Linked DNA regions of Homo sapiens. The protein of the gene in region 2 interacts with the protein of the main gene of each other region in a pairwise test. Each region holds a gene or a part of one and is shown on either strand. Other genes may lie near its edges. The genes, in order: ARHGEF7, SH2D1A, ARHGEF6 and SLAMF6.

The links.
Region 1: the proteins of SH2D1A (region 2) and ARHGEF7 interact in binary tests that used the Homo sapiens proteins (3 or more experiments, as listed by UniProt).
Region 3: the proteins of SH2D1A (region 2) and ARHGEF6 interact in binary tests that used the Homo sapiens proteins (3 or more experiments, as listed by UniProt).
Region 4: the proteins of SH2D1A (region 2) and SLAMF6 interact in binary tests that used the Homo sapiens proteins (3 or more experiments, as listed by UniProt).

The regions. Positions count from the first base shown.
Region 1 is NC_000013.11:111,110,584-111,119,010, forward strand, and holds the start of ARHGEF7 (rho guanine nucleotide exchange factor 7), read left to right. Parts: upstream 1-4,726; 5' UTR 4,727-4,943; coding exon 4,944-5,108; intron 5,109-8,427. UniProt on the Homo sapiens protein: Acts as a RAC1 guanine nucleotide exchange factor (GEF) and can induce membrane ruffling. Functions in cell migration, attachment and cell spreading. Promotes targeting of RAC1 to focal adhesions. May function as a positive regulator of apoptosis.
Region 2 is NC_000023.11:124,348,938-124,357,105, forward strand, and holds part of SH2D1A (SH2 domain-containing protein 1A), read left to right. Parts: intron 1-8,168.
Region 3 is NC_000023.11:136,679,349-136,687,516, forward strand, and holds part of ARHGEF6 (rho guanine nucleotide exchange factor 6), read right to left. Parts: intron 6,476-8,168; coding exon 6,329-6,475; intron 3,497-6,328; coding exon 3,410-3,496; intron 2,621-3,409; coding exon 2,542-2,620; intron 1,529-2,541; coding exon 1,383-1,528; intron 325-1,382; coding exon of another isoform or gene 313-324; coding exon 187-312; intron 1-186. UniProt on the Homo sapiens protein: Acts as a RAC1 guanine nucleotide exchange factor (GEF).
Region 4 is NC_000001.11:160,512,775-160,520,942, reverse strand, and holds part of SLAMF6 (SLAM family member 6 isoform 1 precursor), read left to right. Parts: intron 1-8,168. UniProt on the Homo sapiens protein: Self-ligand receptor of the signaling lymphocytic activation molecule (SLAM) family.

The DNA.
Region 1 (8,427 bases), on a different chromosome or scaffold from region 2:
AATAAGAAATTGAAATGTATCAAATGTGTTTTTCAAAGTCTGTGAATTCATAATGGTATTCAGAAAAATCACTGGTCTCCTCTGCAGGATGCTGGAGCACCAACTCGTGATGCTGAAAAGTGGTAAACAATGGAAAATGAGTGAGCATTTATCTTGCCTTTCCTGTAGGAACTACGTTTCAGAGTACACATATAGCTGATAAAGAACAGTACCTCTTGCAGAATTCTAGCTGAAATATAACTGAAGGACTTATCAAGATATGGCAATTCTGAATGAAACACTGAATCTAGTAGGAATTATGAATAGTTGCTGAAGCAAATAGATGATGATGGGTGGAATCATAATGGATGGATCTGGATAGTAACACCAGAATGCACCAATCGATCCTGCATCACAGAGATCCCAGGACACCACGTTCCTTCTGAGTGATGATAGTAAGTTCCACTTCCCCTTCCTCTCATGTAATATTTCTGGGGCAGGGTCCTGATTTCTCAAAGGGCACTATTGGGAGTAAAATTGTCCACCAAAAGATATGTTGAAATCCTAACTCCGAGTACCTGTAAATGCAACCTTATTTAGAAATAGGTTCTTCACAGATACAATCAAGCCAAGATGAGGCCATCCCAGATCAGAGTGGGTCTTCACCCAGTGACTAGCATGCTTATAAGAAGAGAGAAATTCAGACACTGACACAGAGAGGGAGAAAAGTCCATGTGAACACAGAGGCAGAGATTAGGGCGATTTATACCCAGTACAAGGAGGTTCCCTTGGATGGCTGGCCACCCACAGAAGCTGGGAGAGAAACCTGCAGCAGATTCTCCCTCTGGGCCCCAGAAAGAACCAATCCTGCCCACACCTTCACTTCAGACTTCCAAACTTCAGAAATGGGAGAGAATATATTTCTTTTTATTTGAGCCGCCCAGCTTGTGAGACTTTGTTACGGCCTCTCCCAGAAATGCATAGGCCCCAGTAGGACTGCAGCCCAGGTTCCCGTAGCAATAACCTGCCAACAAGGCAGCCTTGTGTTTAGCTTCTCCCCTTCCCTGTCCCATCGTCCCATTTTCTCCTTTGTGCTTTTCATGGTCACTTCCCAAATAGGCAGCCTGCACTGAAGCCCTGGCTCAGGGTCTGCCTTCGGGGACAGGAGGGGACAAACCAAGGCAGATGGTATCAGAGGGGACCTTGGAAAGCAGATGCCCAGGGGGAGAATCCCAAGACACATCTCTCCCCAGCCAGATGGCACGGCCTTAGGACACTGTGTCAGTCAGCGTTCTCCAGAGAAACAGACCAATAGAATCTCTTTCCATTGACCAACTGATCAATTGGGAGAAAGGGAGACAGAGGGAGGGGAGAGAGACTTATTACAGGGAAGCAGCTCATGTGACTATGGAGGTGGGCACATCTGCTCTGCAGGGGGCCCACAGGCTGAAGAACCAGAGAAAATCCTCCCTTACTTGGGGAAGGTCAGTCTTTTTTTCTATTCAGGTCTTCAACTGATTAGATAAAGCTCACCACATTGGGGAGGGCCATCTACTTTACTCAAATGTTCATTACATCCCAAAACCCCCTTTCGCAGACACACCCAGAATAATATTTAACCAAATGTCTGGGCACCCTGTAGCCTCGTCAAGTTGACACATAAAACTCACTGTCACAGATGCCATTGTTGATGCGCCATGAGTGGCAATCTCCCACGCCCATTCTGCACCATCACAGTGACTGTGCCGCTCACCTGTGCGGAACTGGCATGTGGAGCAGGTGCGGTGGAAGCGCTGGCTTATGAAATAACGCTAATGCCTGCAGTTGAATTGTCCCCCAAAAGATACGTTGGGCTCTGCTGAATCAGAGGTCACTGGTGGGGGAGCCCTCAATCCAGAGTCCATGGGTAAAGTCAGCCTTCCTGCCCTCTGGCCAGAAGGTGCTGAGACCTGTTCCACTTGTTTCTCAAGGGCCCCCCAGGGGAACAGAGCCCTAGTGCTCATTTTCACCCCTTGACTCCCTTACCTGCTTCACTCCCCTTCCTCACTGTCCTTCCTGGGGTCACTCCCTAGCAAGCCACTTGCACCCAATTTGTGGGCTCAGGGTCTGCTTCTGGGGGAAACCCAACCAGGAGAAGCGTCTTGTTGGCATCATGTTTCATAATATACTATACTGGTCAAATGCTTTCTGATCCTGCATACTCCTCCAGCCATATGTGTTGATAAATTAATGTTTCCTGCCTTGCATCTTTTAATTTTAGCATTTGATCATATTTATCCCAAATGAACAGGACCTTGTTTCATACAATAACACACAGCAGATACAATGAGCTGCATAGAGCCACTTCGTAGTGCATTCTCCAATCTAGACAGGGTCCAGTTGGATAAGGGTAGTTCTACAGGGAGTGATTACTACCCACTCTAGGTAAATGGTCATCTGATTGTCCAGCTTAAGTTTGGAGTGAATTTTGCCTTATTTTTTAGATTTTGGCATTTTTATAGTGACCCCACACACGCTGAGTTGGCAGGGTTCAGCTGAGCTTTGGGTGGTAACTGGTTTGCAGTAGGGTTTGTGCGTGAACTCCTAACAGTGATGTGGAAGGTGCCTACCAGGCACTAGCAAGCAGCCAAGCTGGGTGTGAGGCTGACATTCTCTCATTAGAAACGAAGGAAGCGAAGCCACAGGCTTGCGTGGAAAGCCATTCTCCACCTCTTGAGGCAAGTCCAGAGGAGAGCCACAGAAAGGGCTAAACTTCCCCTTAGACAATAGTCTTAACTCGAGCTAACCCAATAGCCCAAAAGTGATGGGCACCAGATTGCACTCCGCGTGGCCTCTGTAATAGGAACCTGGAAAAGTGCTAAGGAAAGTTTAACCAAAATGCCCACTTTGGATACTAAAACAACTCAATTAAGCACCTAAAAATATCTAGCTTTGAGCAATGTTACTTTCTAAAATCCCTTCCAAGTAAACTCTTTTTCTGAAATTAATAAATACCCAACATAAAAGAACGCAACTAGTAACCATAAAGTGTTTAAAAGTCTGGGCTTCTCCCCACCAAGAAAAGACGAGTTGTAATACCTGGACTGTGGGTCTCCAGTCCGACAAGAATTGGCTCTCTGCTTCACTGGTCTCGTAAGGTCACTCCCTAGAATTGGCTTTCTATAGGACCATTTAATTGAGTCTATTTGAATCTTACTCAAGTCTACCACCTTATAAGTATCAAACCGAATTTAGTAGGATTCGAAATGGTAAGGACTGCATTAAATTATTTCTCTAATTCAGCAGTAAGGAAAGTGAACAGAAGTCTCGGTGTACAACCACGCCCCGGGTTGACATCTTTCCTTCCACGAAGACACTGGGTACAAGCCTTGATGTAGCTGTTAATTGCCCTCCTGTTTCCTAGAAAGCTTATAGGGCAGCAGTAGGAAACGGGTTAGGTATGCCTTTCCTGGTAGGAGCCGAGCTTTGGGTCTTATCTCTGCCACTTGTTCGGCATCTGATCAGTAAAAGGGGACCATGATGGGAGGCGAGGCAGTAGACAGCACTTTGTGACGGTTCCTAACCAGTCGCTGTTATCACTGAGCACATTGTCCTCGTAATCCAGAATTCATACTGCCATTTGAATATTTTTTGTATTTGCAAAGAAAATTTTAACCACTTAACTCAAGGCTAGAAATAAAAGCAATTAGTGATTGCAAGAGAAATCCACCGGCAGAAGGCAGGGGGAGACGACTTAAGCCTCTGATTATTTTTGGAAGCTTTATATGCTTTCTAGCCTTTGTCATTGAATGGATTAATGTATGTGCCTGGCATAGACTAAGTGCTTTGCTTGTTAAACTGCCCGCGGGTCATAGCGAGCAAACTGGGGGAGCGCCCAGGGACAGTGGATGGAGTGAGTGGAGACTCGTGTCCTTTTAAGAAGAGGCTCCATTTCTTCCTCGCATGTCAATGTGTGCGTGTCATCAGTTGTTCGAGGAAGCTCGCGCATGACGCGACACTTGCCGTCTGGGCTCTCCAGGTTCGGCCTGCTGCTTTCACAGCCCAGATCTTCGGCGTCCCCGAGACGCAGCCAGGCGCCCGGCCCGGCCCGGCCCGGCCCTCTGCACAGCCCCACTTCAGGCCACGCCGTTTCCTTGACCTTCCCCCGGCAGGGTCTGAAGCGTCACCGTCCGTCTAGAGCAGAGTCGCGCAGGCCCCTGCCCTGCCGGTGAGGTCGGCGCCGCGCTCCGGAGAGTCGGTTCCTCCCGATTCAGACCCATATGGCTTCAGATGGAACCATCATTTCTGTTCCGTCATGACCGGCTTGCAAGGTAGCAAAGCGAAACAAACGTCTCGTTTTCAGCCTGTCCCCGCCACCTTGAAATAAAACCGGCAAAAATAAAAAGAGCATTCTGGGAAGTACTTCATCATTTCAACGCTCACGAATTCAAAACATAAACAAAGGCTTCCGAGTGCCCCGGCCAGGGGCGCGGGGCGCACGGCGGGCCCGGGGCAGGTAAGCGCAGGTGCGCGCCCGCCCCCACCCCCGGCTCCCTCCCCATCCGCTCCCCGCTCCCCTTCCCCTTTCCCTTCCCCGCCCGCTCCCAGCCGCCGCCGCCGCCCCGCGCACGGCCTGGAGCGGAGGCTGCGCAGGGCGCGGGGCGGCGCGGGCCGGGCGCGGGCCGGGCGGACGGCCGCGTCTTTCTTCTCCTGGCGGTGATGTCATTGGGCGACGGCGGCCGAGGCCGGGGGGCGGCGGCGGGCGCCCGCAGGTTCCCGAGCCGCTCCTGAGAAGGCGCCTGACAGCGGGCCGGGGCGCACGGAGAAGCGGGCCGGGCCGGACCTGCTGGGCCGCGCCGAGCCAATCGCCGGCGCCGGCCGCTCGATGGGCGAGGCGGCGGCGGCGGCGGCGGGGGCCGCGGGCCGGGCCGCCGCTCCGAGGTGAAGGCGCGCGCCCCTCCCCGCCTGCCTCCCGGGCCGCAGCGATGAATTCCGCCGAGCAAACCGTTACGTGGCTCATCACTCTGGGGGTGCTGGAGTCGCCCAAAAAAACCATCTCGGACCCGGAGGGCTTTCTGCAGGCGTCGCTGAAGGATGGGGTGGTCCTCTGCAGGCTGCTGGAGCGCCTGCTCCCCGGGACCATCGAGAAAGTAAGTCCCGGCCCGCGCCCCCGCCCGCGCCCCCCGGTCCGGCCCGCTGCGGCCCGGGATGCGCGCGGAGCACCTGAGGCCGGCCGCGCTCGGGAAACCCGTGCGCCCTCCTTTGTGCGCGGAGCGGCGGCGCGGCCGGCGCCAGGACCGTGGCGGGAGCTCGGGGGGCGCCATTGTGTGCGGGGCAGGGGGAGGGGGCCGGGGAGCGGGGTCGGGGGGAGGGGCGGCGCGGGCGGCGGGGGTCCCCGGGAAGGAGAGTGCACCGCAGCGAGGAGACGGGGCTTCTGCGCCGCCCGAACGCTAAGTTGCCCCTCCGCGTGGGGGGCCGGCCCCGCTCCCTGGCAGCAGCCGCATCGGAAACCGCGTTCCGACGCGGTGCGGCTCACTCCGCTGGCTTTGTGTGGACAGTTCTTGCCGGTGGCGTTGCGTGAGTTTCGCCTCCCAGGTTAATTGACCGGTTGCTCTGTATTTTTAAAGAGGCACGCATCTGTAGCTGAGGGCTGCGCTGTGAAACGATCTACTACTTTCCCCTCGAGAAAATTCCCCACCTATCCGAGCCGAGAGGACGGCAGACACAGGGTCTAAGTCCTGGCACTCTTCAAGGCTTGTTAAAATTCTAGATTTCGTTCTCAGGTCCCTCCCTCGTTCTGAACAGAACCTTTAGTCCTGCAGGCACTGCTTCTCCCTTCCGGCTGGTGGTTCCCAGGCTGGAGCGTGTGAACCCTGACCCGAATCTCTGGAAGTGATTAAAGTTTGTTTTCATCGCCCACAAGCCGGCCAGCAGGGCCGAGGAGGCAGGAGAGTTTCTAAAAACGATGTCTCCCTGTAGCTCAAAATACTAAAATCTTATTCCCAGGGTGTTTCTTCGGGGGGTGGGGTGGGGGTGGGGGTGGCCAATATATAGCGTTAAGATCAACAGTTATTTAAAAGGTGTTAAATATAGAAATTGAAGTGTACCATAATTAGGAAGAAGGATTTCAGTTTTTAAGTGGGGTGTATTGGCCCCCATACAGGATGACAACAACTTGTAAATAAAATGCCACGTAAGTGACTTGAAAAAGTAAAATGTTTAATTTTTTTCATTCACATGTACATATTCTCTTGCTACATTTTAAATGAGGTCAGAAAACATTTTATTTAATATGAATTTGGCTTGCATTCCACTTTTAGCTATTTTTCTTACTTGGAACATCTTTATGAAAACAGAATCTGCATATTAGAGTGAATGGCTGCCTGCCTGTCCATGAAATAAAAATGTTCCTTAAAAATGAACCTGATGTCACAGTGAAATTATGATTTAAGACAGGAGGACTGAGGAGCAGGAGCTGACTTTCAAGGCATTCAAAATACTTTGCTGTTTGGATACTGGTACCTCTGGTAATGAAAGACAGATGTTGAAAAGTGTTGAAATGCATGCAAAGTTCACCAAAATAGGCTTAAATAAAATTCTGTTCCATCCCTAAGAGCAAAGCTTTAAGAAGTGTCATATGCTGTATTGATAAAAACATGTCGCCATCAAAGAATATGTTGTTTGGCATATTAACTGTATTAATATTGATTGGCCGACTTCAATAATCATTTTCTTTTAAATTATAGAAAGATTTTCCTAGAAAACCGTAGCGTTCATTTCATCTCTAAAACAACAAAGAGAAGAACGAATAAAATGTTGAGCTTGCAGAAGCCAAGTTGAAACAACTCAACATATTCTAAAACTACAGTCATCTGGAAATTTCTTAGGTCAGAGCTGTTTTTGATTCCCCCTGAGCTCCAGTTGGTTTGTGTTAAACTGACTCTGTCACAATGAAAGTTTAATGTGAAGGCAGCGTATTGTAGACACAGTTACTGGTTCTCTGGAGTTCAAAGGTAGGTTTTTGGAGTAAAATATTAGCCGTTTTCTGCCTCTGAGATCCCTGTGTTTCAGAAGTTTTGTGAGCTTTTTCCATTTGCTAGGCAGAGTTATCTGGGTTTCTTTCTTTCTTTTCTTTTTCTCTTTCTTTCTTTCTCTCTCTCTCTCTGTCTCTCTCTCTCTTTCTTTCTCCTTCCTTCCTTCCTTCGAGATGGGTTCTTGCTATGTTGGCCAGGCTGGTCTTGAACTCCGGGCCTCAAGGGATTGTCCCATCTAGGCCTCCCAAAGTGCTGGGATTACAGGCGTGAGCCACCACGCCCAGCCAGTTATCTGGGTTTTTGGTGTTTTCATGCTTACCAGATAATCTATGCCACAAAGCACACATGCTGAATAACTTTTACTTAAATGTGGGAATGTGAGTCTGAGGATGTTTTTTCCTTAAAAAGAAGCATTTGGAAACTTAACTGAATGTTCATGTGGACATGACAGGGGCTTCGCTTGACCTCTGCTGCAGGAGTGCCCTGACAGCCAGTGAGCGGAGGGCAAGTGGCCTGCAGCCTTCGCCTCTGCAGGCTCACAACCTGGCATGGGCCATGAGGCTGGGGATGAGGGCAGAACTAAAACGTGGCTGGGTGCCTCGGGCTTCCCATATGTCTTTTATTAAGAAACCATGCCCTAATGTGTTTCTTCCATTACGCTCATTTGTTCTGTTTCAGAGTTAGGAAGAGGGTGGAGGGAGCAGAGAGGACGTTCACGGCGTGTCAGATTCTTCTGCTCATTTAAAGGAAACTTTCCACCCAGGTTCCCGCTTTGCTTTTAAGGTGGAAGGTTAGACAGTGAGAAGATGGAATTATAAACTTTACATGAACAGTTCAGAAAAGAGACACTTTTCATTATACTGGACAGATGTTTTCTGCTGTAGGGGAGAGGAAAATGGGATTAAAAAGTTTTCGCCTTCTCTGTATCTGGAGATCCTGCACTTTGGTTTTCTCCAGGAGGGGTCAGGATGTTTGGCTGGGCTGCCCATGTCTTCGGCTTCCCACACTCCTCCCGTGAGCAGAGGTCATGACGTCTAGGGAGCCCTGGAAGCCCTTTTCTCACAAATTCACTTTAAACATCCCTAGGGTATTTAGTCAAAGGAGGTGAAATCAAGATACATGAATTGTAGAGGATGGAAAATTTCTATAAGACTAATACAACACATTAAAATCATGGAAATCATGAAATGCTCTTTTAATTTCACTTGTGAATGCAACAAATGAAGTCTCTTAACTCACTATAAAAAACTCAAGGAACTTGGTTCTTTCTCTGTGTGTCCCAGGAGAACAGAACACAGAGAACCTTCCTGTGTAATCCATGTGATGTGCTCCCGAGAACCCTGGCTAGGTGTTTGTGGAATGTAATTGAAAATCAGACGCTGCCTCGGGTCTTAGTGCTGGATGTGGAGGCATTTGTCTCTCAGCTCTGGAGGCC
Region 2 (8,168 bases):
AGTAATGTGTATCCTACCTTCTGCAAAAGATTGCCTTAAGTACCTTATGCAAGAGAGAAGGGCAGCTTTAGACTTTTGCCTATGTAGGCCGGAACCACATGAGGAATTAACTTAGGCAGGTGAGAAATTATCAAGCATTTAAGTTTTCGCCCAAAGTGAATCTTGCATAAATGCAGTTTTTATGACTCTTAGTTCTCCATGAAAACCTCCTTGTGAAGTAGCGGAAAATACTAGACAAATTGGGAGTTCCCTTACGGTGTCTTTCAAATGGTACACTGGGGCCTCAAAGTCTTATGTGACTGTTAGGGTGATAGCCAGAATGTGCTGCAGAGGGAAGATATGAGGATACATTGCCTTTTATCAGTTTCTCAATGTTTTTGAGTTGAGTGTCCCTTTTGATAAATGTAAAAATTTCATTCCCTCTTTTTGGTGCTACACTGTAATTATAAAATCAGATTTTATTTAGAAATAAACCACGTACTCATTTTAAACCAGAACACTTATGATATGCAGTCGAAATAACAATATAAGTGGTATCATATACACATGGACAACAAGGTATAGCTGACAAACATGCATTGATTGTAGGGTTTACTCAGAATGGTTTCTCATTCTATCTTTTGTTTACTCCTATTAACCAAGAAGATTTAATTGAGCTATAGTTTTTATATTTTTATTGTAGAGATAATACATTTCATATGCCTTCAAACTGTACTTTAAACTGTACTTTCAAACGATGCTTGCCCTTTTCCCCAGTTCTGAACCTCCTAATCATGGCTTTCAGATATGGCCTTTTCTTCTGTTCTGATTTAGAAAATCGAAAATTGAACTGCTTCATAAAGCACTAAAGGAGTTTTCCATTTATAGGATTGCTCACCTTCATTTTAAGTAATAAGTATTTCTTTCAATTACTTTCTCTAAATAAATATAGATTTTTGTATAAGTCTATTAAAAATAGTTCCTTATACCTATTCATTATAGAAAATTTGAAACATATAGATAATAGAAATTAGAGAAAAATCATCTATAGTTTTATAACCTAAAGATGACTATTGCTAAAAATTAGGTGAATTTTCTTCTATATTTTAATAAGATGAATTGCTTTTTGAGCACGTGTGCTCTTACAATTGTATTCTTACGAGTGACGTATTTGACTACTAAAAAGTTTGATTTTTGTATGCGTCAAAAAAAGTAAGGGCAAACACCAAATGTTATATATTTATATATATATAAATATCTAATATATATAATATATAAATATATAATATAAAATATATAATATATAAATATATATTATATAATATTATATAATATATAATATATAAATATATATTATATATAATATTATATAATATATAATATATAAATATATATTATATATAATATTATATAATATATAATATATAAATATATATTATATATAATATTATATAATATATAATATATAAATATATATTATATACTATATATAATATATAAATATATATTATATACTATATATAATATATAAATATATATTATATACTATATATAATATATAAATATATATTATATACTATATATAATATATAAATATATATTATATACTATATATAATATATAATATATACTATATTATATATAGTATATTATATACTATATTATATAGTATAATATAGAATATATTATATATTGTATATAAGATAATATATTATATATTGTATATAAGATATAATATATTATATATTGTATATAAGATATAATATATTATATATTGTATATAAGATAATATATTATATATTGTATATAAGATATAATATATTATATATTGTATATAAGATATAATATATTATATATTGTATATAAGATATAATATATTATATATTGTATATAAGATATAATATATTATATATTGTATATAAGATATAATATATTATATATTGTATATAAGATATAATATATTATATATTGTATATAAGATATAATATATTATATATTGTATATAAGATATATTATATATTGTATATAAGATATAATATATTATATATTGTATATAAGATATAATATATTATATATATATTATAAATATGTATATTTTTATATATTATTATAAATATATATATTTTATATATATTATTATAAATATATATTTTTATATATATTATTATAAATATATATTTATATATATTTATATATAAATTTACATGTGTTAAAAATATGATTGTGTTCTTGTATTCTTACAATTGTATACGTTTCCCATTTCCCACTTAATATGAAAAAAATACACTCATATGTAATGTTCTTAGAGACAACTTTAAGATGTTATTTTTAATGGCTGCATGGTAGTCCAGCTAGCTAGTAAGTATACCATATTTTGCTTAGCCAGTCACCTACTTTTAGACATTTGACTCATTCCATATTTTTGTTATTATAAATTCCATCAGGATGTATATTTCAGTACATTAAAGTTTCCTTGCATTTATGATTATTTCCTTAGAATGAATTTCCAGTGTGGAATTTCTAGGTCAGAAAACATAAACAGCTTAGGATTCTTGATATATACATGATCATGAGATATTTTCCCTAAATGGTTATTCCAATTTACATGCTCACCTGTAATGCATCAGTGTCCATTTCACCACACCCTCACTAGAAGTGGGTATTGTAGTTAAGAAAATTTTCCCTTGACATTTGGCCTGTTATTCTTTATTTTATATTTACACTCTATCTCTTTATTTTCCACATTTTATATTCCTTTGGTTAGTGACTGTCATTTTATATGGTTGTTAAGCTGTTGTATTTCCTCCCATGATTTGGCTTTTTGTGTATTTTTCTCATTTAACCAGTTGAATCATACTTTTTTTAAACACACTCTATGTGTATATATATATATGTGCACTAATCCTTGATCTATTGCAAGGTATCCTTTCGAAGTTTGGTGTTTGCCCTTACTTTTTTGACACATACAAAAATCAAACTTTTTTAACACATTGTAAATTTATATATATACTAATCCTTGATCTGTTGCAAGGTATGTTTTCTAAGTTTGGTGTTTGCCCTTACTTTTTTTGACACATACAAAAATCAAACTTTTTAGTAGTCAAATACGTCACTCGTTTTCTTTGTGTTTGATTTCTTCCTTGGCTAGAAAGTCCTTTCCCCTTGAGATATGTCATAAAACTTCACTGCAGTTTTTGTTTTAAATTACGGTTTTGTTAGTTTACATTTACCTCTTTAATTCCATTTGGAGTTGTATTTTGATGTGGATAAAAGATCTAATTTGATTTTGTTTCCAGATAGCTAGCAATTGTCCTAATATAATTTATAAATACAACTTCCATTCTTCATTGATTTGCTAGCCGACTTTACCATATATTAAATTCTTATATATAACAGTTACTGTTTCTGGACTATCTATTTGTCTCAATTGATCCATTTATTCTTGCACTGATAGCACTATAGTATGATAATGTTTTAATATATTTTAAAAATTATTTGCTATTCTTATCTGTTGGTTCTTCAAAATGAAATCTAGAATCATTTTATTAAGTTAAAAAAAATTCATTGGACCAAATGTTTTAGCTCTCACATGCCAGTGAGAACACATGATATTTGTCTTTCTGTGCCTGGCTTATTTCACTTCACATAATGACTTCCAGTTCTATTTACATTTCTGCAAATAACAGGATTTCATTCTTTTTAATGGCCAGATAGTATTCAATTGTATATGCATAGCACATTTTCTTTATCCATTCATCTGTTGCTGGACTCTTCTATATCTTGGCTACTGTAAATAGTACTGTGATAAATGTATGGGCGCAAGTATCCCTTTGATATATTGATTTCCTTTCCTTTTGATAGATACCCTGTAGTGGGATTCCTCAATCATATGGAGATAGAGAGTAAAATGATAGTTACCAGAGGTTGGGAAGGGTGGAAGGCGATGAAGAGAGGTTGGCTAATGGGTACAAACAGACAGTTAGATAGAAGAAATAGGTTCTAGTGTTCAGTCGCACAGTACGGTGACTATAGTTAACAATATCTTATGTATTTTGAAATAGCTAGAAGAGAGTACTTGAAATGTTCTTACATATAGAAATGATAAATGTTTGAGGTGATAAATATCCTAAATATTCAAATCCCCTGATTTGATTATTACAATGCATACATGTGTTGAAACATCACACTGTACCCCATGAATATGTACAATTATTATGTATCAAAAATTTTTTTGAAAACACCATTGGGGTTACATTAAATTTATTAATAAACTAAGAATGAATTGTCATCTTTAAATAATTTAGTCTTCCCTTCCCATAACATAAGTCTCTCCATTTATAATTTTTTTGTTTATATCCATCAATCAAGTTTTATAGTTTTCTTTTTGTATGTCTTATACATTTTTTGTTATTTCGAGTTATTGTGTGTATGAATGTGTATGCTGATTTTTAAAAATCATAAATGGGATCTGTTTCCACTATATTTTCTGTTTCATAGGAAAGCTACTGATTTTATGTTCTGTTCTTGTATTTATCCAGTGTACTGAATGCTCTTATTAATGCAGATAGTTTTTTTTTTAAGTTTATTCCCTTTGTTTTTTTTAGATACATCAAGTTTCTTTTCACTGAGGTACATATGTTCTCTCACATTTCTTCCCTTCTCACCCTCAATGTAGACAGCCATTGGGAAAGTTCTGACTGCCCAGTGGGATTGATGGTGATAAGACGAGAACTAATTTAAAATATTTAAAATAATTAGCTCAAAAAATAGTTTATTTCCATAGTTGGCATCCTTCTGGACATATCTGCCTTTGTTTGCTACTTATCTGATGGAAGATTTGGAAGAAGAAATGCTGTTATAATTCTTTAGCTTCAAGGACACATAATGAAGTCATTTGACATGTATGTCTTTAGATAAATGCATAATTATCTTTTTGTCCTTTAAGTTTTAAAGGGACAACTGGGAATAAAGTGCCTGTCAAACAACTGAACTGGAGAAATGGGGGAGGAGCAGTGATGAAATAAAATTCCAGTTTATCAGTTGCAATAAAGGGGAACAGTGTGGCAAAGAACTTGAAATTATAACTTAACTTCATTTAGTGAGAAATTACAACTTGCATTTAGTTTTTGAATTCAATTGGATATGTGCCTTGGTGCCACATTTATCTTCATGATAACTTAGGCCACCAACATTATTTTCAATTTCCTGAATACAATCCAGTGGTAAAGTGAGCCTGAAAGCCAGCCTAGGATTGTTTGCCACATATAAACCACCGAATGGATAATTCACGGCAAATAAGCCAAGTACTGACTCTGGTTGACAATGTAAAATTAAAGTTGCAAGATTAGCCTGAAGATGTCATTTAGCTTAAGCAAAGGGGGAGTCTGGGTTGATCTCTTTCGGGCTCTCCCCACCTGGCCTCTTCCCTTCAGCTCCCTCCACTGCCCTCCTTCTCTCAGTGGACAGTTCTAGCTCCATGTCCAAGCAGATTCCCTCCCTTTTTGAGAATTGTGCTTTTGGAATTGTCTTAAAGACCAATTTGTTAATACATTCCCTCTAGTATAAGAGAGGGGCAGCACAGAATGGTGGTTAAGAGCCCAGATCTTCCAGCCAGATCTCTGGGTGTGCATCCCAGCTCTGACCCTTAACTAGCTATTTTCCCTTGGGCAGGTTACTTTAACTTTCTGTGTCTCAGGTTTCTTACCTGTAAAACGGCAGATGGTGATAATGAGAGTACTTACCTCACAGGGTTGTTATGATGATTATGACATGAGTTAATATTTGTAAAGTTAACATGTAATATGTGTTTTTTAATATGAATAAAAGCTCTATAAATAATTGTAATACAAAGTTAGAACATCATAAGTATACGTAAATAAAACTTGATATGGAAGTTCAGGGGAAGAAGTGGTTATATTTATTTTCATGACTCATCAAAATATCACATAGTTTTACCATCACACTTGAAGTTGAATGACTTTCAACTGTTTCAAAAATTAAAATTCTCTCTGAAAGAATAAAGTTTGGGCCATTGTAAGTTTGGAAAGCTCTTGAATCAGAGTATAGTCTCAAAAATAATGGCTTTGTGTAGGATACTATTCCTCTGGATATAAAAGTTCTGAAACGTTTGTTAAAAATCATTATAGTTGTGTCTTGAATTTTGTATGTAGCATTAGTTCGTATAGACGTAGAGGGCATAGGTACTGGCTTGCTTTATTTGAAATGTCATGAAGAAGTCAGATGTAGCTAAATGTTTTCTTTTGTGTAGTACTTGACGTGGTATAAAAAAGGAATTGATGTGGATTTGTCAGTTCTAAACCAGGATCTGTCCCCAACACTGACCCACTGAGAAAATAAGAAATAAGTCAGGTTGGTTGCTTCTTGCTTCTTGTCCATTTCTAACCTGGACACTTTTTTACAGTTAGGGACAACTTTTGATGAAATAAAGACAAATTTCAATATCAGCAGAGACTAGATTAACACATGCTTTATAGTAATTAAAATAAATTAAAGGCAATGATAAAACTCCACCGTTCTTTAACAATTATTCATGTTCTGATTTTTTTGGTGATACATTTTAAACTCTAGGATTATCAAAAAGTCCAAAAAAGCTTTAATGAGGGAAGGAAGTTAAAAGTACACTACATTGCTGGTTTGTCTGTATTAAGGGAGGGAGTCAGAGGAAATATAATCCTGAAGGGGATGTAACAATTTAAAAAAATGAATTACATTTTTATGAGTTGTGATTTGCTTAGGCTAGGTTTGTAAGGCTCCAAATTGTAATTCTGCTTGTTTTTCTTAAAAAATTAGTCACTTAAATAACTACATGAAAAAATAACATGCAAGAATGCATTTACGTTAGTTTAAATTTACTTCTAGTTTATATACACACAGGGACAGACAGTTTTGAATAGTTGTAATCAGAGTGGCATCCCCTTGTGCCCACTTTTTACACATACTGTCATTTTATTTTTTTATTTTTATTTTTTGTTTTGTGTGTGTTTTTTTTAATACTTTAAGTTCTAGGGTACATGTGCACAACGTGCAGGTTTGTTACATATGTATACATGTGCCATGTTGGTGTGCTGCACCCATTAACTCATCATTTACATTAGGTATATCTCCTAATGCTATCCCTCCCCCCACCCCAGGACAGGCCCCAGTGTGTGATGTTCCCCTTCCTGTGTCCAAGTGTTCTAATTGTTCAATTCCCACCTATGAGTGAGAACATGCAGTGTTTGGTTTTCTGTCCTTGCGATAGTTTGCTGAGAATGATCGTTTCCAGCTTCATCCATGTCCCTACAAAGGACATGAACTCATCCTTTTTTATGGCTGCATAGTATTCCATGGTGTATATGTGCCACATTTTCTTAATCCAGTCTATCATTGATGGACATTTGGGTTGGTTCCAAGTCTTTGCTATTACACATGCTATCATTTTATGTCAACATAGTCCACATACTTAAAGTTTTCTGGAAAACCTAAGACTCTAACATTTTTGAATTTTGGCATAAGATTTTATTTGTTTATTTATTTATTTATATTTTTTGAGACGGAGTCTCTCTCTGTCGCCCAGCCTGGAGTGCAGTGGTGTGATCTCAGCTCACTGCAACCCCTGCCTTCCAGGCTCAAGCGATTCTCCTGCCTCAGCCTCCTGTGTGGCTGGGATTACAGGTGCGTGCCACCACACCCAGCAGTTTTTTGTTTGTTTGTTTTGTATTTTTAGTAGAGACAGGGTTTCACCATGTTGGCCAGGCTGGTCTCGAACTCCTGACCTTGTGATCCACCCACTTCAGCCTCCCAGAGTGCTGGGATTACAGGCGTGAGCCATCGTGCCCAGCCAGCATTAACATTGTAAACCTTCACCTTTGACATAGAAAGTGTAATTTTGAACCATTGTTTCTGCTATAATTCCTTTATTTTTCCCTAATTTATATATTTATTTCTAAACTGGCAAAATTGTATATATGTATTGTGTATGACATGATGCTTTGAAATATGTATACATGTGTAATAGCTAAATTGGGATAATTAGCATATGCATTACCTCACATACTTACATTTTGTGATGAGAACACTTAAAATCTACTCTCTTAGCAACTTTCAAGAATACAATACATTGTTTTTAACTATAGTTGCCACGTTGTACAATAGATCTCTTGAACTTTTTCCTCCTAACCTAAATCTTT
Region 3 (8,168 bases), about 12 Mb from region 2:
TATTTGCAGATGGACAATGGGAAATGGAAAATTAAGAAATCAAACAAATCACTGAGTCTGGCAATTCAAGACTGACTCACATAATACCATCTATCTTAAATTCTAGCACATTCCCACAGAACTATTTGTAATAAGCTACGAAATTAACTTGTCAGAAGCATTTTATACCATAGGTAGCAAAATTACCTCTTTATAACCTAGTGCTGCTGATGGTCTAAGTGGAGGTGCAGGTCGTAGACAACTTAAACTCCACGGTTTTATAATTTGAGGAGGCTCCAAGGGTCCTCGGGGCTGTCCGGTAGAGCTAAAAGACTGGGAAAATGTCTGATGAGATGTTGGCAATCTGCCATCTGAACCCGACCTTGTGCCACACAGTGAGAGAACAACAATAGCTTCATTGGATTAGCAAAGACAGCCATAGAAAGGGATAGATGGAAAAACAAAAGTCTCTAGTTTGAGAACTGGTTCTTTCCAGTCCAGATTATCGGGTCTCTAAGAAACAGCACAAAATTGACTCAACATTCCATGATCCTGTCCTCTCTTTCTCATCTGGAATTTAATTAATTTAATTTTCTTTCCTCTGTAAGGAAGGAAAATGGAGTAGCAGTCAACATTTGAGTTCAGTGATATGTTTGGCACTCTAGTAGGTGCTTAAATAGGTTATTTCATGAGAACAGCCTAAGACATAGACTCAGTCAAGGGAAGCAACTAACTAGTAATTGGCAAAGCCAAGATTTGAACCCAGATCTGAAGCCAAAGTCCATATTCTTCCAACCACAACACACAGTCCTCAAAACTGGAATTTTGGCATCATAGGTTTGTATGTTAACAAACAACACAGCATATCTTCCATCTCACTCAGCAAGTACAGTAAAATCTCATCAATTCAAATTCCAATGTCTAAATTTGTGATAACTCAGAAGGAGATAATGCTAAAAGTTTACCTTTGAAGAAGGTTACTGAGCAAATGTGAGAGCATGAGTGAGATGACATGGAGATGTTTAAGTACTTAGGGAGGTAAACTATTTGTTTCGACTTAGCCCACTGTTAGTAGGAGAATAACCATTGCTCATGGAAATAAGCCTTGCTTATCATTAAAATATTTTAGCAGGACTTCTGGTTAGAAATACTTTGCTAGCAGTTAGTTGGGGTATCTGAATACTGTCAAACAGAACTGCACACTCTAAGTAAACCTTTTCATTAATTTGGATGGGCCTCATAATGAGAAATCAGAATGAGTGAGGTTTAACTGTACTTCAAAATCTACAAATATAGGCTGCCCAAAAGACTAAGGGTGTGCTCGCTGCTTCTTGTAAGTCTCCAGCAGGCAGGAGTTGACGAAAGACTCAATAATCTCTGGACAGAACACATGGACTACTTACAGAATGAGCACTACATGATGACGATGAGGTTTTGGATAATGAACTGCAAGAGGCAGGTCCTCTGATCAGTCTGTTCAGCTGCTCCAACCATTCCTGGAAGTCCTGGTTGTTGTTACAATGGACCACAATTCTCTCCACTGTGTTACCTACATCCCCCAATTATGATCAGTTTGAAAACAAAAGGCAAGGAAAAACTTGAGCTTGTCCCATTCATAAATAGACTTCATACAACTAGGACTTGGGTGTGTATTTTCAGGGGTTTTCATACCTATGGGATAACCCTGCTGAAATTTCTATATCAGAAACAGATAACCTGTGATTACAAAGTAAATAAATATTCATGTCTGATTTAGAAAACTGTCCTTGATTTTTACTGCTTACAGAAGCTTAAAAGTAGTGTAAAACTTCACCATAAACAAACTTGCAATCCAAAAACATAAGCACATAGTCCATCTAGTTAAGTCTAAAGTGGGAATATTGTCCTGGTTCCCCTGGTATCAAAGTTGGAACAAGATCCAACTAAGACTATTTACAACCTTTTGGCAAACACCAAACCTTAAGCTCCTTCTTGGGAAAGAAGAGGGTAAGGCCATGATCCCAGTCTTAGCCACTGTGCCATATCAGCACCAACAGTCAGGCCACTACATATAAATGACACAGACCTGGCAAAAGGGATCATAAGCTAAAATGTCAGGGGGCATTACTGAAGCCTGGCATTATGCTCAATTTGTGAAGAAAATTTGATGGCTTTTCAGAACTTTTTAGAAATACAACCAAATCTTACTAACTCATGGGCTGATGATAAAATTGCTGATAAAAGTCCATATCTTTGGCTCCTCTGCCACCAGGGAACAAATGACAGAGGGGAAGAAAATTGCGTTTACATCAGTCCATTTCGTTATTCCTTAGCTCTCACAAGTAGCTCTCATGCAACAGAAAATTGAAACTAATGGCAAAGCCATGGCTTTTGAATGAGAGGAGACTTCTCTGTGCTATTGCTGTACCCTAATTATCCCAGGAAATGGAATATACTTTGCCATGCCCGCATAAAATTTGCTCGTGGCCTATGTAACAGGAAATAATGGCATTTATTTATTAAATTCCCCTTCATTCCAAAAAGAATTGGAAGTAGTTACATGAAAAAGAGAAAATTACCTACCAGTGATTTCAAATGTGCAGTCATTCCCTTCAATTTCATCTAATCTAGTCACCACCGTTCCTGCTATTGGTATTTTTCCCTATTAGAAAAAGAACATTCTCATTAATTCTGCAGTTATACAGGTCTCTGTTTATTTCACTTAGATTTTCTGACCCTCTCAGCAAGGCAAAACTATGGCTAGACGTATTTCTCCAGTCTGTCAATAGATAATATGTTTCCCTGCTCTAAATTTTAATCAGACTAAGAAAGCAAGGGGAAAATGTGGATTGTGTTTGGCTAACACACCCTAAACTATAAGATCAGGATTTACAAAGCAGTTTACTTTTCTAACACATTTTCATAAGAATCAGTAAAAAAAAGTGAAGGCTCAGATGTTATGAAAATTATTAATTGCCAGGCCAAGATGGAACAGGCAATAGTAACTTATAATACTCTATATGTTGGGAGCTGACTGAGGGACATTTAATTTCCTAAGGAGTTTAATAACATGCTTCTTAGAAGCCTGAATCATGTGCTGTGACTATAATAAGACAAACATAGGAGCAGGTCCCAGCTTTATGTTTTCTCAGCAATAATGACATGGGCCTGTACAATACTGCTGCTAATTTATCTAGTTTCCATTTATGCATGCAAAACCTAGTGCATAACTAAAGCGGTGGATATATTCAAGATAAACTCATTATACTAATACAAAGGTCTTTGATCTAAGGAACATCTGCTCTTACAAGCTCTTTAATTACAATGAAGGGTCAGAACATTCTGGTTCTCCTGGCTTGAGCTTTTAATGCCATAGTGGAGATATTGCATCTGGATGGAAACCTGTTTTCGTTAGGGGGTCTGCTATGTGTTTTATATGAAATTTACTAACCTGATAGATAAAGCCACTCATCCGAGGACTTGCAGATAACATTATCAGGACATTTGAAAATAACATAAGGTACCGCTCCTCTTTTTCCTGAGAGGGAATGAAAATAATACATGAAGAACAGAATTGGACACTTTATCTGTTGAGAATTTCTGGAATCACTGCCTTATAACATAGACCTTATATAAACAACTGAAACATTAACGGTAATTTTTTTTTTAAAAAAGATACCCAACTTGAAAACACAAAACTAGTTGAATTTTACTTTGACATGGACATAAACCCACAGTTTATCTCTCTTCTTCTTATACATAACAATTAAATACAAATAACCATGCTTGCTTTCCATGTATGAAAGCCTGAGAAGTCACCACAGTTTATGCAGCCAGTGAGATGTGCTAGACCTGGGCACAAAATAAGTCTCCAGGTTCACAAAATGAAAATATATTTTACTTTGAAAAAATGGCAAGATGAAGGGGTTTTCAGGTGATAAGAGATTTAGTATGCTCTAACATGTTTGTTAAAGTCGTATTCATAAAATTAGCTTTGGTCATTAAGAACAAGATAATTATTGGATTTATGTAAAACATAAAAGTAGATACACTTTCTTTTTTTTTTCTTGAGACGGAGTTTCGCTCTTTTTGCCCAGGTTGGAGTGCAATGGCACGATCTCGGCTCACCACAACCTCCACCTCCCGGGTTCAAGCGATTCTCCTGCCTCAGCCTCCCAAGTAGCTGGGATTACACACATGTGCCACCACTCCCGGCTAATTTTGTATTTTTAGTAGAGATGGGGTTTCTCCATGTTGGTCAGGGTGGTCTCAAACTCCCGACTTCAGGTGATCCACCCACCTCAGCCTCCCATACACTTTTTAATGGCACTGAGGAAACCTTGAAACGTGAGGGCTGCTGTGAGCCCCTTCAACAGATATGCAATTAGTATACGCAAAAATTACGTTTGCCTTCCATGCCCAGCCATCTTAGCTACAATTATCCTTATGCCTGTCTCCATCTCCTTCCTTCCATTTGAGAAGAGCAACCCTTCCAGGCTAACTATTCTAACAAGTGCTCCACATTCTCTCACATCTTTGTTTCACTTAGTTTTCCTCTACAGACACCTCTTCTTCTCCCAGCATCCTCTTCTCTTTTACTAGCTGTTCCTCTTTTTCTTTAACATATGTACACCTCCTATCCTAACAGACCTTGGCTTGCCCCCATGTGGCCCTTTATGCATAATATCCCATTTCTTGACATTTTATTGGCAAATTACTTGCTGCCTTCATTTTCTCTGCATTGATCCATCCCTAACTGCACCCCCATTGCTCTTGGAAAGTCATCAGTAACTGCCTTCTAGCAAAATCCAATGGCTTCCTCTTGGTCTTCACATTCCTTGCCCTCTGAACCTTCAGCAGCAGTCAGCACACTGGCCATTTTCAAATGCTCCTCGTGGAATTTCCATGACACCATGCTCCCCCAGTTCTTCTCTACCTTCCTCTTTGTCTTTTTATTTTTTCTGGCACTGATTCCTCCTGCCTTCACCCAAGGGGTTTATCCCAAAGGTGTGAATGACTAATAGTTAGACTCACTGCAGTAACCTTCCCTGGGGTATTTGCATTTTAAATGAGATTGCTTATTAACCCAAAGTAATGAATCTCCGCCAAAGACGTGTCAGAGAGCGTAGGAAGATGTTTTGGGAGAAGGAAGACAATTCTAACACCCGATACATCAAACCAGGTGCCATAATCAACCTTTCTCCCTTTCCCTGGCTCCTTCCTAAAAGAAATAATCCATCTTCAGCTCCCCCCACCCCCCGGGCTTCTCTCTGGATATTTACTTCCTAGGAAGGCACATCTGTTAGGGACATCTAAGTCTCTGCCTCTAACTCTGACCTCTCACTCACATTTCCATACTACATTAACAGCTGCCTATGGGACATCTCCACCCAGATATCTACAGGTCTAAAATTATATTCTTCATCTCCTCTAACCCAGGGGCACCACTTCCTGTTGGCTTTCCCTTCTAAAGATGCCTCCAATTTGCTCCTTCTGCTCCATTCCCAGTGTTACCACCGTCTTAGGGGACTCCTTCTCACTTTCCATCCCAGCTGGCCTTTCTGCTTCTCGTCCATTCCCTCCAGTTCATTTGACATATATAGGTCGCAGATTAGTGTGAAACATCCCTTTCGGAGTGTTGTTCTATGACTGTGGACTCTTTCATTATTTCCCATGGCCTGTTGCATCCATCTGAACTACTCTTGCCTGATGTCAAGCTTCTGCATAGTCTAATTCTACCTGACTCAATCAATCTTTTACTAGGGCCAAGTTGCTTCTTTTGCTCCCTACAGGCTGGTTTCCTTACTGTGCTGCAGCAAACCAAAGCCACATTTCTGTTCTCTCCTAAGATAACAATGACCTCTGCCTTGCGAAATCCTCCCCTTTTGTTTTTGTGCCCCCTCCTCAAGTCCTGTCTCCGTAAGGTCTTCTTGATCTCTCCCTCCTGTGAACTTCTATGGACTCTTGTTGAGATTGCAAAATCGAACATTGACTATTTGGTTTGTCAGCTAGTTGCAACTTGTGTTTTAGTCTGTTTTTAATGAGTTCTTTGAAAACAGGGATCATTGCTTGTTCTTTTCTCCTATCTCCCACAGCACCTAGCAGAATGTTCAACAAAGAACAGGTGCTCAGCTTCTGATTTGAATGTTGTAGCATTTGACTTTGATGGAAGAACAAGGAAGAAAAACTACTTAAGAGGCTCAGGCAGGAGGATTGCTTGAACCCAGGAGGCAGAGGTTGCAGTGAGCCAAGATGGCACCACTGCACTCCAGCCTGAGTGACAGAACAAGACTCCGTCAAAAAAAAAAAAAAAAAAGGAAGAAAAATACGAAAGATGGAAGAAATAATGTTGAGATTTGAAATACCTTACCTCACATGCTCCATACTGCACCATTACTTGTGACATAAAAATCACATTTCCCAAGTTTTTAATATCTTCTCCTTCCCATGCCTGAATAGGTTCGGACAGTATCTGTAACTCCAGCTGTTTTCTCTTCCTCAGATCTTGACATTGCCCCTACAGAACCAAAGCAGAACATAATGGAATAGGAATTCTTATGAAATAGACTAAAATAAGACCAAAGTAAGATGTGGCTTCTGACTCTTTGGTTCCCACTGAGTCCCTATTCCTCATCATGAATCCCATGACCCAGGCCTGTTCTTGATAGACAGAAAGATCCACTACCCTAAATCTCTAGGCTTGAGCCCCCAAAGGTTTTGTGAGGAAGGCCTATTTTTCATTTTGCCAAAGCATCAAAACATAATGCTAGAAAGAGCTTATTTCTCCCTCCCTGTAAAGAATATGGGAAAGCAAGCAGCCAAATCACACTGACCAGAGCCAGGTGAGGACCTGGTAGATTCAGATCTACTGGTTGGTGCCCCTGCTTTAGCTCCTCTTACCTTGTCTATCTTTGCATAAATAGGGCTTTAGTGACAAAATAATTGTATTTCTAACATATGCTCAATTTTCAACAAGGTAACATCTTGAAAATAATAAAAAACAAAAAATTTCTCCTGGAGTTATAGTGAAAGAGAAAATTAAATTCTTTATGCCACAGTGAATCAAACTTATAATGAAACCTAGGCACTGCTGTACTTTGTTTAAGGACCAAGATTGCTGTGAAAAAAATACTAAATTAGTTTTTATTCCTAAAAGGATTGGAAAAAAGAGATACAACTGAATTTCATGATGACATACTGAAATTTCAAACCAAGAAAAAATTACAGTTTGCCAACACTATGTGGGGTATGAATACTCTTTCTATATATATGTGTGTGTATGTGTGTGTATATATATATATATATATATATATATACACATATATATATATATATACACACATATATATATACACATGTGTATATATATATACACATATATATATATACACATATATATATACATATATATATATATATATATATATATATCTCACTGCTTAAGAAACTGTGAGGTTATCTTAGAGTAATTTAACAGCATGCCTTCCAAATTGAATACAAAAATAAGCACATGGTTAGTTCTGTTACTGTTTCCAAATGAATGTAAGATAATATTTTGGGGTTATATTTTCTATAAAATCTCTGCTGTCCCTTTCAGCTACATGGAAACTCAAAGAAATAAATTCACTGTACACATATTTTAAGAGCACCTATAGTAGGAATAAATATACTAAACCATCAAGGCAAGTTATATAATATAATCAGAAAGAAATACAGGTTTTTAAAAAGACTCATTTTACATTCCTATTTATACAAGAAAAAATAGAAGAACCATAATTATAATAAATGCTGTGGGTTTCACTGGGCTGTTCTATTAGCTTGCGCCATGTAAAACTGCCAATATTGGACTGTTTTTGGCATATAACAATGGCAATTTTAATCTAATACTTACTCTGGTCTTCAACTTACTGTTCAACTACAGACACGTCAATTACTGATCTTTCAACAAGGATTAATAATTAAACATTAGTCCAAATCACTTATAATGCTACAGAATTGTGTGAAATGAAGCTAAGTTTAATCAATTGCCCAAAATGAAGTTTTCTTTCCTCCTAAAATGGCACCAAGTGGTTTTATATCAGTGGGTTCAAGAAGATACATTAACCATCATACTGAAGATACAAGATCACGTGTACCTTTGATAGCAACCTATATAAAGCACTTGCATTTTAGTTCTTTAGGTTTTTTCCCCCCTTTTAGATTTGATGAAG
Region 4 (8,168 bases), on a different chromosome or scaffold from region 2:
GGAAAAGTCAAATGAAGAAGATTTTAGGGCAGAGGGAATCATGTGTGAAAAGCCGTGATGCAGGAAAGAGCCTGGAGTGATTTAGGAAGGGAAAGAAGACCACTGTTGCAAAAATGTGGGGCAAATGAAATTAATCTTTGAAACAACCATGAAAAACAATGACTCATGCCAGCCTACATTCTTTGAAGTGGGTTGGGCACTATCCTGACTCCTTTTAGAAAATTTAGTGGAAAAGACAAACCATATTGAAAAATAATCCCATTTCCTTTAACTCAAGCCCTGGGTGGCAAAACTAACAGAACAAAACAATAATTGTAAATAAAATCAAGCATCATGACTTCCTAGAGAAAATAAATCTCGTTTGTTTCTTCATTTTGATTTTTATAGATGGAAAGTTGGAAATTTGTCAAACTTAAATGTGCATATAAATTACTTGGGGGAATCTTATTAAAATGCTGATTGGGGAATAGGGACTGAGATTCTGCATTTCTAAGAGGCTCCCAGGTGACACCAATGCTGCCTGTCCATGGACCACACTAAGCAGCAAGGTTCTAAATTCCAATGGACTTCAGTCATACTGGGATTGTAGGGAGGAAGAAATAGAAACTAACTTTGAGTGTGTTTGCAGGAAGCAGATATAGGTATTCTGAGGTCCAGGAGAGAGCAGTGGTTGGAAATGTAAGTAAAGCAAACACATGAGGGCTGATTCTGAGGTTGAGTCAAAATGTGCAATGCTCTTCTGTGAAGAGATTGTGACCTGATGGCCCCCGAGCAGTGTTATCTACTTTTTACCAACCGTCCACATCTTTCAAATGTTTATTGTGCTCAACAGGCAGAGAGCTGTTTTATATTTTTTCATTATCCTCAGACACGTGTTTTTCCACCTCTCAGAATCTGCAATCTCCAATGTGACCTCCAGGTGTTCATGCCTCTGTTTTTGGTCCCTTAACCCAGATTCAGCTTTGATTGTTTCTCTGTTCACACTCAGACATTTTTTATTAAGGTGAAATTCTTGTAACAGGATGTAATAATTTTAAAGTGACATTTTGTACATTTTGTGAAACCACCACTTCTATTATTCTAAAACATTTTCATCACCCCAAAAGGAAACCCTGTACCCACTAAGCAGTCATTTCCCATTCTCCCCTCCCCCCCAGCCCCTGGCAAATACCGATCTGCTTTCTGTCTCTGTGGGTTTACCTATTCTGGATAATTTCATATAAATGAAATCACACAATATATGACCTTTCGTGTCTGACTTCTTTCACTTAGCATCATGTTTTCCAGGTTCACCTATGCTGAACCATGTATCAGTACTTCATTCCTTTTTGGCTGAATAGTATTTTGTATTCTGTATATACTACATTTTATTTATCCATTTATCTATCAGTGGACACCTGGGTTGTTTTTGCCTTTTGGCTCTTGCGAATAGTGCTGCTATGTGTACAAGTATTTGACTACCTGTTTTTATCTGGGTATATACCTAGGAATGGATTTGTCAGATCATATAATTCTATGCTTAACTTTTTGGGAAATTGCCAAACTGTTTTCCACAATGGCTGTACCATTTTACATTTCCACTAGCTGTGTACAAGAGTTATAATTTCTCCACATCCTCATCAACACTTGTTTTTTTCCTTTTTAAAAAGATTATTATCACCATCCTAATAGGTGTGAAGTGGTATATTATTGTGGTTTTGATTTACATTTTCCCAATGACAAATGATTTTGAGTATCTTTTTAAGTGTTTATTGGCCATTTGTATATCCTCTTTGGAGAAATGTCTATTCAAGTCCTTTGCCCATTTTAGTTGAATTATTTGTCTTTTTGCTATTGAGTTATAAGAGTTGTTTATACATTCTTGGAACCAGACCTTTAATACATGACCTGAAAATATTTTCTCCCATTCTGTAGGTTGTCTTTTCACTTTCTTAATAATGTTCTTTGATGCACAAAAGTCTTTAATTTTGATGAAGCACAATTTACCTATTTTTATCTTTTTTCTTTTTTATCATTTTATTTTAAGTTCCAGGATACACGTGCAGGATATGCAAGTTTGTTACATAGGTAAACATGTGCCCTGGTGGTTTGCTGCACCTATCAACCTCACCTAAGTATTAAGCCCTGCATACATTAGCTATTTTTCCTGATGCTCTCTCTCCCCCCTGCCCCACCCCCGACAGGCCCCAGTGTGTGTCATTCCCCTTCTTGTGTCCATGTGTTCTCATTGTTCAGCTCCCACTTAAAGAACATGCGGTGTTTGGCTTTCTGTTCCTGCATTAGTTTGCTGAGAATAATGGCTTCTGGCTTCATCCATGTCCCTGCAAAGGACATGATTTCATTCCTTTTTATGGCTGCATAGTATTCCGTGGTGTATACGTACCACATTTTCTTTATCCGGTCTATCATTGATGGGCATTTGGGTTGATTTCATGTCTTTGCTATTATGAATAGTGCTGCAATGAAGATACACGTGCAATGAACATGCACATACACATATCTTTATAACAATGATTTATATTCTTTTGGGTATATACCCAGTAATGGGATTGCTGGGTCAAATTGTCTTTCTGCCTCTAGGTCTTTGAGGAGTCCCCGCATTGTCTTCCAGAATAGTTGAACTAATTTACATTCCCACCAACAGTGTAAAAGAGTTTCTATTTCTCCACAGCCTTGCCAGCATCTGTTTTTTCTTGACTTCTAAATAATTGCCATTCTGACCTGTGTGAGATGGTATCCCATTGTGGTTTTGATGTGCATTTCTCTAATGACCAGTGATGTTGAGCTTTTTTCCATGTTTCTTGGCCACATAAATGTCTTCTTTTTTTTTTTAACACCTGAAGAGTAAGTTTAATGGAATTCATAGTTACAGATATTCAGAAAATATTTGTTGGGGGAACTAATTAATACATTTCTTTCTTTTAATTTTTATTTTTAGTTCTGGGTACATGTGCAGTATGTGCAGGTTTGTTACATAGGTAAACCTGTGCCCTGGTGGTTTGCTGCACCTACCAACGCATCACCTAGGTATTAAGCCCAGCATGCATTATCTATTTTTCTTAATGCTCTCCCTCCCCCAACCCCACTCCCCAAGAGGCCCCAGTGCATGTTGTTTCCCTCCCTGTGTCCATGTGTTCTCACTGTTCAGCTCCCACTTACAAGTGAGAACATGCAGTGTTTGGTTTTCTGTTCTTGTATGAGTTTGCTGAGGATAATGGCTTCCAGCTTCATCCACATTCCTGCAAAGGACATGATCTCATTCCTTTTGATGGCTGCATAGTATTCCATGGTGTATATGTTCCACATTTTCTTTATCTCGTCTGTCATTGATGGGCATTTTGGTTGATTCCAGGCCTTTGCTATTGTGAATAGTGCTGCAATGAACATATGCATGCATATATCTTTGTAACAGAGCGATTTATATTCCTTTGGGTATATACCCAGAAATGGGATTGCTGGGTCAAATGGTATTTCTGGTTCTAGATCTTTGAGGATTTGCCACACTGTCTTCCACAATGGTTGAACTAATTTACATTCCCAACAGTGTAAAAGTGTTCCTATTTCTCCAGAACCTCACAAGCATCTGTTGTTTCTTGACTTTTTCATAATCACTATTCTGTCATGAGATGGTAATTTATTGTGGTTTTCAATTGTATTTTTCTAATGATCAGTGATGTTGAGCTTTTTTTCATGTTTGTTGGCTGCATGAATGTCTTCTTTTGAGAAGTGTCTGTTAATGTCCTTTGCTCGCCTTTTAATGGGGTTGTTTGATTTTTTTCTTGTAAATTTGTTTGAGTTCCTTGTAGAATCTGGATATTAGACCTTTAACAGATGAATAGATTGCAAAAATTTTCTCCCACTCTGTAGGTTGCCTCTTGGCTCTGATAATAGTTTCTTCTGCTATGCAGAAGCTCTTCAGTTTAACTAGATCCCATTTGTCAATTTTTGCTTTTGTTGCAATTGCTTTCAGTGATTTCATAATGAAATCTTTGCCCATGCCTATGTCCTGAATGGCATTGCCTAGATTGTATTCTAGGGTTTTCATAGTTTTGAGTTTTACATTTAAGTCTTTAATCTATCTTGAGTTAATTTTTGTATAAGGTGTGAGGGAGGGGTCCAGTTTCAATTTTCTGCATATGGATAGCCAGTTCTCCCAGCACCAGTTATTAAATAGTGAATCCTTTCCCCATTGCTTGTTTTTGTCACGTTTTTTGAAGATCAGATAGTGGTAGATGTGCAGTCTTATTTATGGGTTCTCTATTCTGTTCCATTGGTCTATGTGTCTGTTTTGTACCAGTACCATGTACCGTGCTGTTTTGGTTATTGCTGCCTTATAGTATTGTTTGAAGTCCAGTAGCATGATGCCTCCAGCTTTGTTCCTTTTGCTTAGGATTGTCTTGGCTATATGAGCCCTTTTTTGGTTCCATATAAATTTTAAAATAGTTTTTTCTAATTTTGTGAAAAATGTCAATGATAGTTTAATGGGAATAGTAGTGAATCTATTAATTACTTCGGGCAGTATGGTCATTTTCATGATGTTGATTCTTCCTATCCATGAGCACAGAATATTTTTCCATTTGTTTGTGTCCTCTCTGGTTTCCTTGAGCAGTGGTTTGTAGTTCTTTTTGAAGAGGTTCCTTCACTTCCTTTGTTAGCTGTATTCCTAAGTATTTTATTCTCTTTGTAACAATTGTGAATGGGAGTTCATTCATGATTTGGTTCTCTGCTTGCCTGTGTGTGTTGTATAAGAATGCTTGTAACTTCTGCATTGATTTTGTTTCCTGAGATCTTGCTGAAGTTGCATGTGAGCTTAAGAAGCTTTTGGGCTGAGATGATGGGGTTTTCTAGATATAGGATCGTGTCATCTGCAAACAAAGATAATTTGACTTCCTCTCTTCCTGTGTGAATATGCTTTATTTCTTTCTCTTGCCTGATTGCCCTGGTCAGAACTTCTAATACTATGCTGAATAGGAGTGGTGAGAGAGGGCATCCTTGTCTTATGCTGGTTTTCACAAGAAATGCTTCCAGTTTTGCCCATTCAGTATAATATTGGTTGTTGGTTTGTCATAAATGTCTCTTATTGTTTTAAGATATGTTCCATCAATACCTGGTTTATTGAGAGTGTTTAACATGAAGGGATGTTGAATTTTATAGAAGGCCTTTTCTGTGTCTATTAAGATAATCTGTGGTTTTTGTCTTTAGATCTGTTTATGAGATGAATTACATTTATTGATTTGCATATGTTGAACCAGCCTTGCATCCCAGGAATAAAGCCAACTCGATCAGGGTGGATAAGCTTTTTGATGTGCCGCTATATTTGGTTTGCCAGTATTTTATTGAGAATTTTTGCATCAGTGTTCATCAGGATATTGGCCTGAAGCTTTCTTTTTTGTTGTATCTCTGCCAGGTTTTGGTATCAGGATGATACTGGCCTCATAAAATGAATTAGGGAAGGGTCCCTCCTTTTCAATTGTTTGGAATAGTTTCAGAAGAAATGGTGCCAGGTCCTCTTTGTACCTCTAGTAGAATTCAGCTGTAAATCCTTCTGGTCCTGGGCTTTTTCTTTTAGACTATTTATTACTGTCTCAATTTCAGAATTTGTTATTGGTCTATTCAGGGATTCAGCTTCCTCCTGGTTCAGTCTTGGGAGGGTGTATGTGTCCAGGAATTTATCCATTTCTTCTAGATTTTCTAGGTTATGTGCATAGAGGTGTTTATAGTATTCTCTGATGATTGTTTTTATTTCTGTGGGGTCAGTAGTGATATCCTCTTTTAACATTTTTTATTGTGTCCATTTGATTCTTCTCTCTTTTCTTCTTTGTTAGTCTAGCTAACTAGCAGTCTATCTATATTATTAGTTTTTCAAAAAACCAGATTCTGGACTCCTTGATTTTTTTGAAGCATTCTTCTTTTATCTATCTCCTTCAGTTCTGCTTTGATCTTGGTTATTTCTTGTCTTCTGCCAGCTTTGGAGTTTGTTTGCTCTTGGTTCTCCAGTTCTTTTAGTTTTAATGTTAGCATTTCAATTTGAGATCTTTCTAGGTTTTTGATGTGGGCATTTAGTGCTCTAAATTTCCCTCTTAACAGCTGCTTTAGCTGCATCCAGAGATTCTGATACATTGTCTCTTTGTTCTCATTGGTTTCAAAGAACTTCTTGCTTTCTGCCTTAATTTCATTATTTAACCAGGAGTCATGCAGGAGCAGGTTGTTCAATTTCTATGTAGCTATGTGATTTTGAGTGAGTTTCTTTGTCTTGAGTTCTAATTTGATTATGCTGTGGTCTGAGAGACTGTTTGTTGTGATTTCAGTTCTTTTGTATTTGATGAGGAGTGTTTTACTTCCAATTATGTGATCAATTTTAGAGTAAGTTCCATGTGGCAATGCATAGAATGAATATTCTGTTGTTGTAGGATGGAGAGTTTTGTAGAGGTCTATCAGGTCCACTTGATCTAGAGCTGAGTTCAAGTCCTGAATATCTTTGTTAATTTTCTGTCTGAATGATCTGCCTAATATTGACAGTGGATGTTAAAGTCTCCCGCTATTATTGTGTGGGAGTCTACATCTCCTTGTACGTCTCTAAGAGCTTATTTTAGGAATCTGCTTTTGTATTGGGTGCATACATATTTAGGATAGTTAGTTCTTCTTGTTGAATTGAACCCTTTACCATGCCTTTCTTTGTCTTTTTTGGTCTTTATTGCTTTAAAGTCTATTTTGTCAGAAACTAGGATTGCAATCCCTGCTTTTTTCTGGTTTCCATTTGCCTGGTAGATTTTCCTCTATCCCTTTATTTTGAACCTATGTGTGTGTTTGCATGTGAGATGAGTCTCTTGAATACAGCACACCAATGGGTCTTCACAATTTACCCAGCTTGCCATTCTGTGTCTTTTAAATGGGGCACTTAGCACATTTATATTTAAAGTTAGTATTGTTATGTGTGAATTTGATCCTGTCATCATGATACTAGCTAGTTATTTTGCAGACTTATTGATGTAGTTGCTTCACAGTTTCATTGGTCTTCATTGTGTACTTCAGTATGTTTTGTAGTGGCTGATAATGGCTTTTCCTTTCCATATTTAGTGCTTCCTTCAGGAGCTCTTGCAAGTCAAGCCTGGTGGTGGATGAATTCCCTCAGCATTTGATTGTCTGAAAAATATTTTATTTCTCCTTTGCTTATGAAGCTTCATTTGGCCAGATATGAGATTCTGGGTTGAAAATTCTTTTCTTTAAGAATGTTGAATATTGACCCCCAATCTCTTCTGGCTTGTAAAGTTTCTGCTGAGAGGCCTGATGTTATTCTGATGGGCTTCCCTTTGTAGGTGACTTGGCCTTTCTCTCTGGCTGCCCTTAACATTTTTTCCTTCATTTTGACCTTGAAGAATCTAATAATTATGTGTCTTGTGGTTGATCCTCTCATGGAGTATCTTACTGGGTTCTTTGTATTTCTTGAGTTTGAATGTTGGCCTGTCTTGCTAGGTTGGGGAAGTCTCCTGGATGATATCGTGAAGTATGTTTTCCAACTTTGTTTCATTCACCTGTCTCTTTCAGGTACCATAATCAGTTGTAGGTTCGGTCTCTTTACATAATCCCATAATTCTCAGAGATTTTGTTTGTTCCTTTTCATTCCTTTTTCTCTAATCTTGTCTGCCTATTTTATTTCAGCAAGATAGTCTTCAATCTCTTAAATTCTTTCCTCCACTTGGTCTATTCGGCTATTGATACTTATGATTGCATTGTGATGTTTTCATGTTGTGTTTTTCAGTTCCATCAAGTCATTTATGTTCCTCTCTAAGCTGGTTATTCTGATGAATAGCTCCTGTAATGTTTTATCCTGATTCTTAGGTTCTTTGCATTGAGTTAGAACATACTCCTTTAGCTCGGCAAAGTTCATTATTACCCACCTTCTGAAGCCTACTTCTGTCAGTTCATCCTTCTCAGCCTGAGCCCAGTTGTGTGCCCTGCTGGAGAGGTGTTACAATCATTTGGAGGAGAAGAGACACTCTGGCTTTTTGAGTTTTCAGCATTTTTTATTGATTCTTTCTCATCTTCCTGAGTTTATCTAGCTTTGATCTTTGAGTCTGCTGATCTTTGGATGGGCTTTTTGTGGGGACTTTTTTGTTGATGCTGTTGTTGTTGCTTTCTGTTTGTTTTTCTTTTAGCAGACAGGACCC